Linked DNA regions of Homo sapiens: region 2 is linked to region 1. The links come from fine-mapping of genetic effects on gene expression. A gene starts in region 1. The other region holds a variant in brackets. All regions are shown on one strand. Distances are between the middles of the regions.

Region 1 (4,369 bases):
TCAGCGGATCCTGCCTTCTTGCTCAGGGCAGGCAGTGTGATCCTGAACCTGCCTCAGCCACCTTGGGGGGCCTGGGACAAGCGGTCCCAGCTGTGGAGCCTGGAAGGAGGGGTTCCCAGCGCTCGGCCAAGTGTGGACAGAGGGCCGAGGCCTGGCAGTCACCTCTCATGGGGTTTTTCCTCACTAAAGACTCTCGGGAAAAGGAAGCCAGCGCTCGGCGCTCCCGCTGGGCCCGGCTCTCCGGCCTCCTGGCCAGATGGCTGCCAGGCACCACTTCTGGTCCTGAGCGGACCCGGTCCCGGGCCACCTTCCCCACCTGGCAGAGGTGGAGCCGGCGGAGAGCTGGGGCCTCTCGGAAGTTTCCAGGGCCGCGCGGGTGCGCCGAGTCCGCCTCTCGCTTGCAGCGAAGGCCCCGGCGTCAGCGCGGCCGGTTTCCCCTTTCTCGTTCCAGCTTAGGGCCCATCCTGGGCGAGGGCCTGACCTGGCGGCCCACACGCAGCCCGGTGGTCCCGACTCTGAGCAGGCCCGCGGTGCACACACAGAACCGAACCCGAACACGCACACGCACACCCCACGCGCGGAGGGCCCGCAACGCCGCGCACAGACAGCCCCTTCGCGTCGGCGGCGAAACGCCCGGTCTTGTTCGCACCAAGAGGGGTCAGAGGTCACGGGAGGCCGAGGCCGAGGGCACCCGGCAGCGGAGCGCGGCGGGAAGGGGGCGCCTCACCCAGGGGCCGGGAACGGCCGATGGCGGGGCGCAGGAGCGTCCGGCACAAACTCGGGAGCTGCTTTTCCCTGGTGCACAGAGCGCGGGGCCTACGGCCGCGGGGCAGCTGTTGGGACGAGCCGGGCGGGCCCCGAGCCGAGGGAGCGGAGCTTCGGAAAACCGCCGCGAGTCCCGCGCGCACCCGGCTCACGTTTGGGGGCTCGGCCCCGGGAGCTGCGAGGCCGGCCTGGAGGGACCCGGCCCCGGAGGCGCGGACGGAACGGCGTGGGTCGGGCGGGGACCTCGAGGGGAGCGGCCCGGGCGCCTCTTCTGCGGGTGGGCGGGCGGGCGGCCTGCAGAGGAGGGGGCGGCGGGAGCAGGCGGCGCCGATTCCGCTCCGCGCGGCGCTGGCCGCTTCGCTGCAGCCGGGGCTTCGGCGGGGCTGCGGGAGCCGCGCTGGCCGGGCCGCGGCTCCGCCTGTCCTCACCTGCCCGCCCGCCTCACCGCGGATGGCGCCGGCGACCGGGGCTGCGGGGTGCGCGCGGGCTGCTCGGAGGCGCTGTGGCGGGCGAGGGCGCGGGTGGCTGGAGCACCCGGCCCGCGGCAAGGACCGGCTGGCGGCAGGCGGGGCGCGCGGAGCCCGGGGCTCGGCCGAGACGGAGCGAAAGAGAAAGTAAGACCGAGGACCGGGCAGCCTGGCCGGGGCAGCTCTGTCCCCGCCGGGCCCGGCTGTGCCAGGCAAGCGGGTACAGAGGGGTCCACGCGGGCCCGAGGGCGGCAGCGGCGGGTCGGGAGGTGGCCGGGTGGGTCCCTCCTGTCGGAGGCACTGTCGCCCCGGCGGCCCGCGCAGGCTGCCGGCGTCCCAGAGGAGCGCCCTCCACCACGCGGGGCACAGCCGGGGATAAACTTCACGACCACAGTTCCCAGCCCGGGCAAAAGTCTCCATTTTGCTCCCCAAGTGGCTGCGGCTGTCCCGCCGTCGCCACCCCTGCCCCTGCGCCCGCGGAGCCGGGTGGGCGCCGGCCCGCGCCCCCTCCTCCGCCCCTCCCCGGCTCGGGGTCTCCCTCCTCTGCGCCCGGCTGGCGGACGCCAAAGGCGGTGCTCTAGCGCCCACTATTTCAAAAGCCCGGAATATGATTTGACCAGGACTGAGAGCCACTCGGAGAGAGAGAGGGAGAGAGCGAGCGGGGAGGAAAAAGTTGCTCTCCCCTTTCGTCAACTTTTCGCTAACTTTCACTTTTCGCTCCCCTCCACCCCCGGCCCTCCCCCTCCGCCCCCCTCCCCGGCCCCCACCGCGCGCCTCGGGTTCCCGGGCCCGAGCGCCTGACACTGGTGGGGGGGGAGGGGGTTCCGCGGGGAGGGGGCCGGCGCCTTCGGGGAGCGCGCGGCCCGGGCGCCCCGAGCCTCCGCGCCGAGCCCGGTCGCCCCGGAGCGCGGGAGGCGGAGCAGCCCCCCGGGCCGCGCGGCCGAGCCGGGGGCCCGGAGCCGCAGGCGCGCCGGCCGCGCCCCGACGCGCACCCCTGGCCCGGGCGCCCCGGCCCGGCGGCCCGGGCCCCGGCGGCGCGGCGCGGCCGAGCGCGGGAGACTTACTTTTGGCTAGCTTCCTCGCCCTCGCCTTGGATCGCATGGTGTCGGCTCGCGGAATCTCTCTCCTCCTCCTTGAGTCCAGAAGCAGCCACACACTATCTTCATCTCCCCAGCATTGTCAGTTTGGACACCTTCGCACATGCGCACAGAGCACTCAATCTGACACCCCTCGCCGGGGCCAAAAAAACTTTGCAATGTATTCATCATCCTCATCGTCGCGCCGCCGCCGCCGCCGCCGCCGCCTCGGCGCGGGATTGGGGGGCTCTCCTCGGCCTTCTCGGTCTTCGTCTCACTTATCTCTCCCCCCTCTCCCCCCCCCCCTTTTCAGCGCAGCTCGGAACTGGCCCTTTAAGAAAACATTCCGTGTTCGGCGCTCCCGCCCGGGGCCCGCACCCCGGACACTTTAAAAGGACCCAGGTGGCCCCGGAGGCGAGGTGACTATCCCCCCACCCTGCCCCTGCGTCGCGGCGCGTCGCGCTGCTGCTCCCGCCCCAGCCGGGGCCGAAGATGGGGCGGCGGCTGCGGTTTTCCACACGACTTCCTTGGATCTCGGGGCACACGCGCCGATAGTTCGGACGCGAGTCCGGGCTGGTTTTGCTCCGTTTTACTGCGTTTGATTACTAATTTAAAAGCTTTGCGTTCCCCGTCGCCCCGGCCCGCTTTTCTCCTGCATTCTCCCCTCGGCCCCCGTCCCCGCCCTGCGATCGCTGGAGGGGGCGTCGGGGCTCGCGCGCCAGAACCCGGCTCCTCCGAAGCCCCCTCCGGGCCCCACCGCCCCCCTCGCGCCTCCCGGCCCCCGCCTCCTCCCCTTCGCCCCCACCCAACGGCTGCTGCTTCGGGCTTCGCGGCTCAAAAACAACAGCGGAGGCGCCGCCAGCTCCGCGCTCCGCCACTGCCCAGGCCGGCGGGCGGCACTCGGACCCGCCGCCCTCGGTCCCTCGCGAGGCCACGGAGGCCAACACGCCTCGCACGGGGGGACAGCGCGGGGGCAGCCGTCCAAACACCAGGCGTCCTCGGCTGGTCGTCCCAGGGCGCCCGCACCTCTCCGCCCGCGCTCTCCTGCCGCCGCGCCCCCAAGGTGAGTACCCGGCTGCGCGAGCGCCCGAGCTGGGCCACCTTCGGGGACCCGGGCCACTGGGGACACTCCCCTCTGGCCTCTCGGGGCCCAGGTGCGTAGCGGGCGGAAAGGCCAGCGGCGCAGGTGGAGCAGCTCGGACGGGAGCCGACCAGACGCTTCCTCTTCCCCTGTAGCCCCCAAACTCCGAGGCGCTGCGGCGGAGGGGCCGGGCTGAGCGCAGGCAGGGTGGCCCGGGCCCAGGAGCCTGACGGCCTGAGTGCGGATTTCTCATCTGAGTATCTGGGAATCGAGAATGAATTGGAAGGAAACCGAGGCGCTGCCCTGGCCAGGTTGCTGCCCCGCACCCTTCCGGAGCACCGAAGTCCTGCCCGGCAACGGGACTTGGAGCTGCCGCAGAGTCAGCCTGAGCCCGAGGCAGGGGTCGCGCCCGCGATGCGGGGTCTCTGCGCCGCCCCGCGAGGCTCCTGGCCTTGCCCTCCCTGCCCTTTGTTGTGTAATAAGACCTGTGGCGGCTCCACTGAGACCCACACGTGCAACTCCGCGCCTCCGCGTTAAAGGAGGTGAAACGCAGCAGCCCTGAGAAACCCCGAGACCCCGGTGTCCTAGCAGAGGCGCCCCGGATGGGGAGGGGCGCGGGGCCGGCGCCACCCCAGAGGAAAAGCCCAGCGGAGCCGGGTTGGGCAGGAGCTGGCGGCGGCGGTGCGCTGGGCCTTCTGCCTTGGATCCTCCGCGGTCGGCACCGCTTCCCTGCTCAGATTCGAACCCAGATTCGGCTCCCAAGGCTCCCACGGCTCCAGGGTGCCCAGTCTTGCAGCCAGCTCGCCGCCCGAGCCCCGGATGGAGGAAGCGCTCACTGGCCGCTACCTCTGCTGTTTCTGGCACCAGGTGAGTGTCGCCTAGAGAAGGGCCATGAGCAATGGCACAGCCCCATTCCCTGCCGTCCTTTCGAGGGTCTATCGACCCCTTTACCCACCCTCCCCACACCCTGACCATCTTTC
Region 2 (4,369 bases), 360 kb before region 1:
CCCCTATGGGAATAATTTAAAGCCCATCCGAGTGGGGAAGAAGTTGCGTCCCAAGAGAGGGAGGCGGCTGGGCCCGGGGGGCTGTGCTGTCTCTGCTCCTTGCGGCAGGTTCCCCCGACGCCCTTCTGTTCTCAAGCTGTGTCTCGCCAAGAACCCGCAGGAAGAGCGACGTGACGACTGTGTCGTCCATCCGGAGTCTCAGGCACAGGTGCGGCTTGGTGGCCCGGAGCGATCCGCTGGGATTGCTCCCCAGGGCAGCCACGTGGAGGACACCGGAGCCGCTGGGGTCAGGTGGGAGGTGGGAGACCCAGGACGTGGCCAAGGCCCTGCCTTCAGAGGACGGCGCTGGGTTCCCGCGTGGGGTGGCCGAGGCAGGGACAGAGGAGGGAAGGAAGATGGGTGCCCGGCCACATCTCTGCATGGCGGATCCAAGCCACAGGCCCTCGACTTCCCCATATAATTGAGGGATCTTGGGTGGGGACCTGTGGATTCCTCTGAAGGCCACGTGGCGGTCCTGACACCAATTCCATGTCACACGAGGGCAGGCACACTTCCCATCCCAGCCTCGGGCAGGCCTGCAGCCCAGGGCGCCCTGCCTAAGACTTCTTCGGCCGTCTGCATGGTTCACGGGTGTGGCCCCGCGCCTCTTGTTCTGCCTCGGGGCACCCAGCATCACCTTGGCTTATACAAATAGGGACAGAGATAGAAAATTTCTCCATTATCTACAGTATAAAGAATACACCCAGGCACAGTGCGGGTTCCCAGGCAGACTCGGGTTTGCAAATGAGCTCAAATTTCAAAGCAATGCAAAATTACTTTTAAAAAACAATTTGCAAGTCATTTTTTGATTTTTAAAAAATACTGTCTATTTTTAAAACCACATGCTTAAATAGACTCTGCAGTCAATACGGTTACCAAAAGGGTTATTCTTGTCATTTCATTATAAAAATCATTTGAGTGATCTCTCTCTTTTGAGCACACCAGTCTATCCATTCCCTTCCGCGACCCCACGCGGGCACCCGGCAGTGGCCACCAGCTTCTGTCTCAGCAGAGCGTCCACCTGCCCACTGGCTGATTCTGCGAGGCAGCTCCGTTGGCTGTCTTTGGACGGCCACCTGCATGGCCGTCACTGAACAGTGTTCTCAAGACCAATCCTTGGAGATGGTGAGACTCTACGACTGCTTTAGGGACTTTTGGGATCTGAGTTTCCATTGGAAAAGTCGGAATGAACCATGGTGGGTGGGGAGGATGCTGAGGAGTGGCCACACGCAGGGACAGGGTTCTCCGGGGCCCCGCCCGCCTCCGTCCTTCGTGGCTGGTGCCCTCGCTCTGGCCACCGGCCCCCGGCTGCCCAGCCCGTCAGAGGTGGTTGATGGGGTGAAATGCTCCAGACTCCGACGTGGCTCCAGTGACCTTCAACCAAGCGTCCAGAGAACCCTGGGAGGGGGTGTGGAGAGGAGTGTCTTCGGAAAGGGACAGCATCATTGCATATGCCTGGCGGGGAGGGGATGACACACACACAGGACAGGCAGGTGAGCGCGTGGGCAGGGCGGGCCATCCCAGACAGGCAGGTGAGCGCGTGGGCAGGGCGGGCCATCCCAGACAGGCAGGTGAGCGCGTGGGCAGGGCGGGCCATCCCAGACAGGCAGGTGAGCGCGTGGGCAGGGCGGGCCATCCCAGACAGGCAGCAGATGGGCAGGGCAGGCCATCCTGGACAGGCAGGTGAGTGTGTGGGCAGGACAGGCCATCCCCGGCCAGCAGGGCCAAGCCTCGTCCGTTCCCAGCCTCCCGTGGCCCTGGCCTGGCTCAACCTTGCCCTGGGCCACAGGGGGCAGAAGGAACAAGAGGGACTAAGACCCGGATTCTCCCCGCAGCCTGGAAGAGGAAGACATGAGCAGGCGTGACGGCGGGAGGGACGAGGGCCGCCCCCTGCTCCGAGTGATGCCAGGACATTGGGGTGCTGGTGCAGGGCCTCCTGTGCACACCAGCTCCCTTGGCTGCTTTGGGGTGCTCCCCCTCGAAGCCTCCTCTCCTTCCCACCCCTTCCCCCTGTTTCCTCCACCTGGTGATCAGCAGAAACTACAGACACGTGTCTGGT[T/C]TGGGACGGCCCTGGGAACTGGGGGTCAACAAGAGCCACCCCTGCCAGGGGATGTCTGTTTTGGTGACCGTGGGGACACCAAAGAGCTGCCTCTGGGACAGGGATGTGCAGCGTTTCTGGGCCAATGGGATTCTTAGGAAGTACAGATGTGTTTCCAGGCGTTAGTTCATGGGACATCCTTCTGCCCCCAGCACAGGGCAGGTGGGGATGGGACCTGGGGAGCATCGTGTGTGGGTTAAGGGCAGGGAAGGTGGGGAAGCCCAGCACTGTCCTACCCGAGTTAACACTCCAGACAGAATTAGTAAAAAGACAAAGACAGACACGCAGACGGCTTTTGCTGAGACCTGGGGCGGGCCTGTTCCCTCTGGGAGGGCTGTAGAGTGCTGAATGAGACCCTGAGTCCCTACAGACTGGAGAGAAATGCGGGAGCAGGGCCCTGGGGCCACCTACCCTGAGGAGAGAAGCCGAGAAGCGCCTGGGGCCAAAACCCTGGCACCCTCGCTGACCTCATTGCTCCAGCTGGGAAGCAGAGACTGCCCGGCTGGACAGCTCTTCCCCCGGGAAAAGCCCGGGCTGCAGGCCACTGGGGCCCAGATCAGAGAGGGAGGGAGACGAAGGCGGCTGGGCGGGCCAGAAACCTGCTCACAGACCTTTCCCACTGAGGACCACAGGAAGGTGAGCTGCCCGTGTCCATGAGTGAGCTCCCTCGTGAGGGTCCTGCCAGGGTCATCGGCTCTCAGCCCCTCCCTGCTGCGCCCCAGCTTGCGGGAGGGCGGTGGTCGCTGGGGCCTCTCTGGAGGATGCAGCGTGGGGGCGTTTGCGTGACCAGAGCTTCCTCAGGCCTAGGAGGGCCACGGCGGGAGAGGAGTGCTGGCTGTCCTCTGGCTGAGGAGGCCAGGTGGGGTGGGGGAGGGGCTCTGGCGGGTACCTACCTGGTTCTTAGCCTGCCTGCACAGTGTATGTTTTAAAGCCTCAGAATCTAAGGTGGAATTAAGCACATCTTTAACTTCAAATGCTTCCTCAGCTGCTCTGCGGAGGTCCAGCCCCTTCCCAAAAGTCGGCATCGGCTCCAAAGCTAACAGACCGCCTTCGTGGTCCTCAGCACACCTGCACCAATGACCGGGGAGAGGGAAGGCCTGCTGTCAGCAGCCTGGCCTTGGCCGCCTCTCTGATGCTGCAAGCCCAGCTCCGGGCCTGCATGCACGCCGCTGCATCTCTGCCAGCCACATGCACAGGGAGACAGACACACGGACACACAGACGCCTGGACGGGAAGGCACACGGATGCAGGAGAGTGACGGACAGAGGTCAGGGAGGGGGTGAGTGCGTGCACACGCATCAGGCAGCAGGCAGGGGGCTCAGGTCTTGCCAGTGGAGGGTGGAGAAGAAGGCTTCAATTCTCTAAGACCCCAGGCAGCTCAGAGAGGCCCGGGGCTCCCTCTCCCAGGACTCAGGGGCAGCATCCAGGCTGGAGAGGAAGTGCCACCTCCGAAGGGCCTCCCCAAGGGCATCTGGGAATGCTGGCAGTGTCGCCCAGGCCCGATATTGGTGGCGAACACTGAGGACATGGGGAAGTGGCCCTGGCCGGCACAGAATGGTGGGTGCTTGGCCCCCGTGTGCCCACGGCCCTCTAGTGGCTGCACGCGCTGTCCCAGGCTGACAGGCAGCTCTGCTGCAGGGCCGGGGGCCTCCATGTCTGCTCAGTGCAGGGAAATGCCTTCCCCTCCACACTCTGCTTCCAGCCTCCAGGGCCCCTGGGGGTGGGTGGGGGGGTTAAGGGCCCCTGACCCCGTTGCCCCTGGCCCAGCCTTGCCCTGGCCTGTGTGTGGAGGCCCTGAGGTGGCTGTGCTGGAGTAGGGGCTGAGCCAGGGATGGGCTCACGAGTGGCTGAAGAGGGAGGTCCCCCTCGTGATGGACGCCCACGTTCCCTCCCTGCCCCATCCTGGAGCACACGGCTGCCCCCACCTTCGGGTGTGGTCAAAGCCCACGGCCAGGGAGGCGGCTGGCTCCTCATCCTCCTCATCCTCGTAGGCGGCCTGGGGCTCGGGTGCGGGGGACACGGTGTCATCCTGCGACTTCCCGGCCAGGCTGTCCTCATCGTCCTCCTCCAGGTCATCGTCGTCCTCCTCCTCCACGTCCTCCTGCTTCTCACTGGCTAGGCCTGGACACTGGGCACTGCCGTCCACGATCTGCATGTCCGCCCTGAAATGATGCAGGAGGAGATTGACTGAGTTTGGGTGTCTCTGTCCTTCCCATGGACCCCCAAAGGCTG

Direction of the effects. Alleles are on the strand shown, and positions count from the first base shown. SD is a standard deviation of normalised expression in the study named.
For the expression in hypothalamus of the gene that starts at base 2,390 in region 1, T is the low allele of the variant in region 2 and C is the other (small effect, 0.37 SD a copy in GTEx).

What was found. PIP is the estimated chance that this variant, and not a neighbour inherited with it, causes the effect.
Region 2: its variant is the best candidate, but not a certain one, in a credible set for the expression of PRDM16 in hypothalamus (GTEx, PIP 0.89).

Annotation. Positions count from the first base shown.
Region 1 is chr1:3,067,224-3,071,592 of GRCh38, reverse strand. PRDM16 (PR/SET domain 16) reads right to left here and starts at 2,390. Exons shown (of 17, transcript NM_022114.4): 1 at 2,297-2,390. The coding sequence starts at 2,333. LOC124903827 (translation initiation factor IF-2) reads left to right here. Exons shown (of 5, transcript XM_047436614.1): 1 at 1-1,379; 2 at 2,622-3,371; 3 at 3,545-4,256. The coding sequence ends at 2,645. It overlaps PRDM16-DT (PRDM16 divergent transcript), which reads left to right and starts at 3,868. Exons shown (of 6, transcript NR_015440.1): 1 at 3,868-4,256. It also overlaps the pseudogene LOC100420339. RefSeq lists an enhancer at 3,497-4,071.
Region 2 is chr1:3,430,802-3,435,170 of GRCh38, reverse strand. It overlaps PRDM16 (PR/SET domain 16), which reads right to left. Exons shown (of 17, transcript NM_022114.4): 15 at 4,063-4,299; 16 at 3,031-3,205; 17 at 1-1,494. The coding sequence ends at 1,360. Among named protein-coding and RNA genes, the nearest start is that of ARHGEF16, 22 kb to the left of the region's middle. RefSeq lists an enhancer at 1,211-1,720. The variant T/C (reference allele first, on the strand shown) is at 2,099.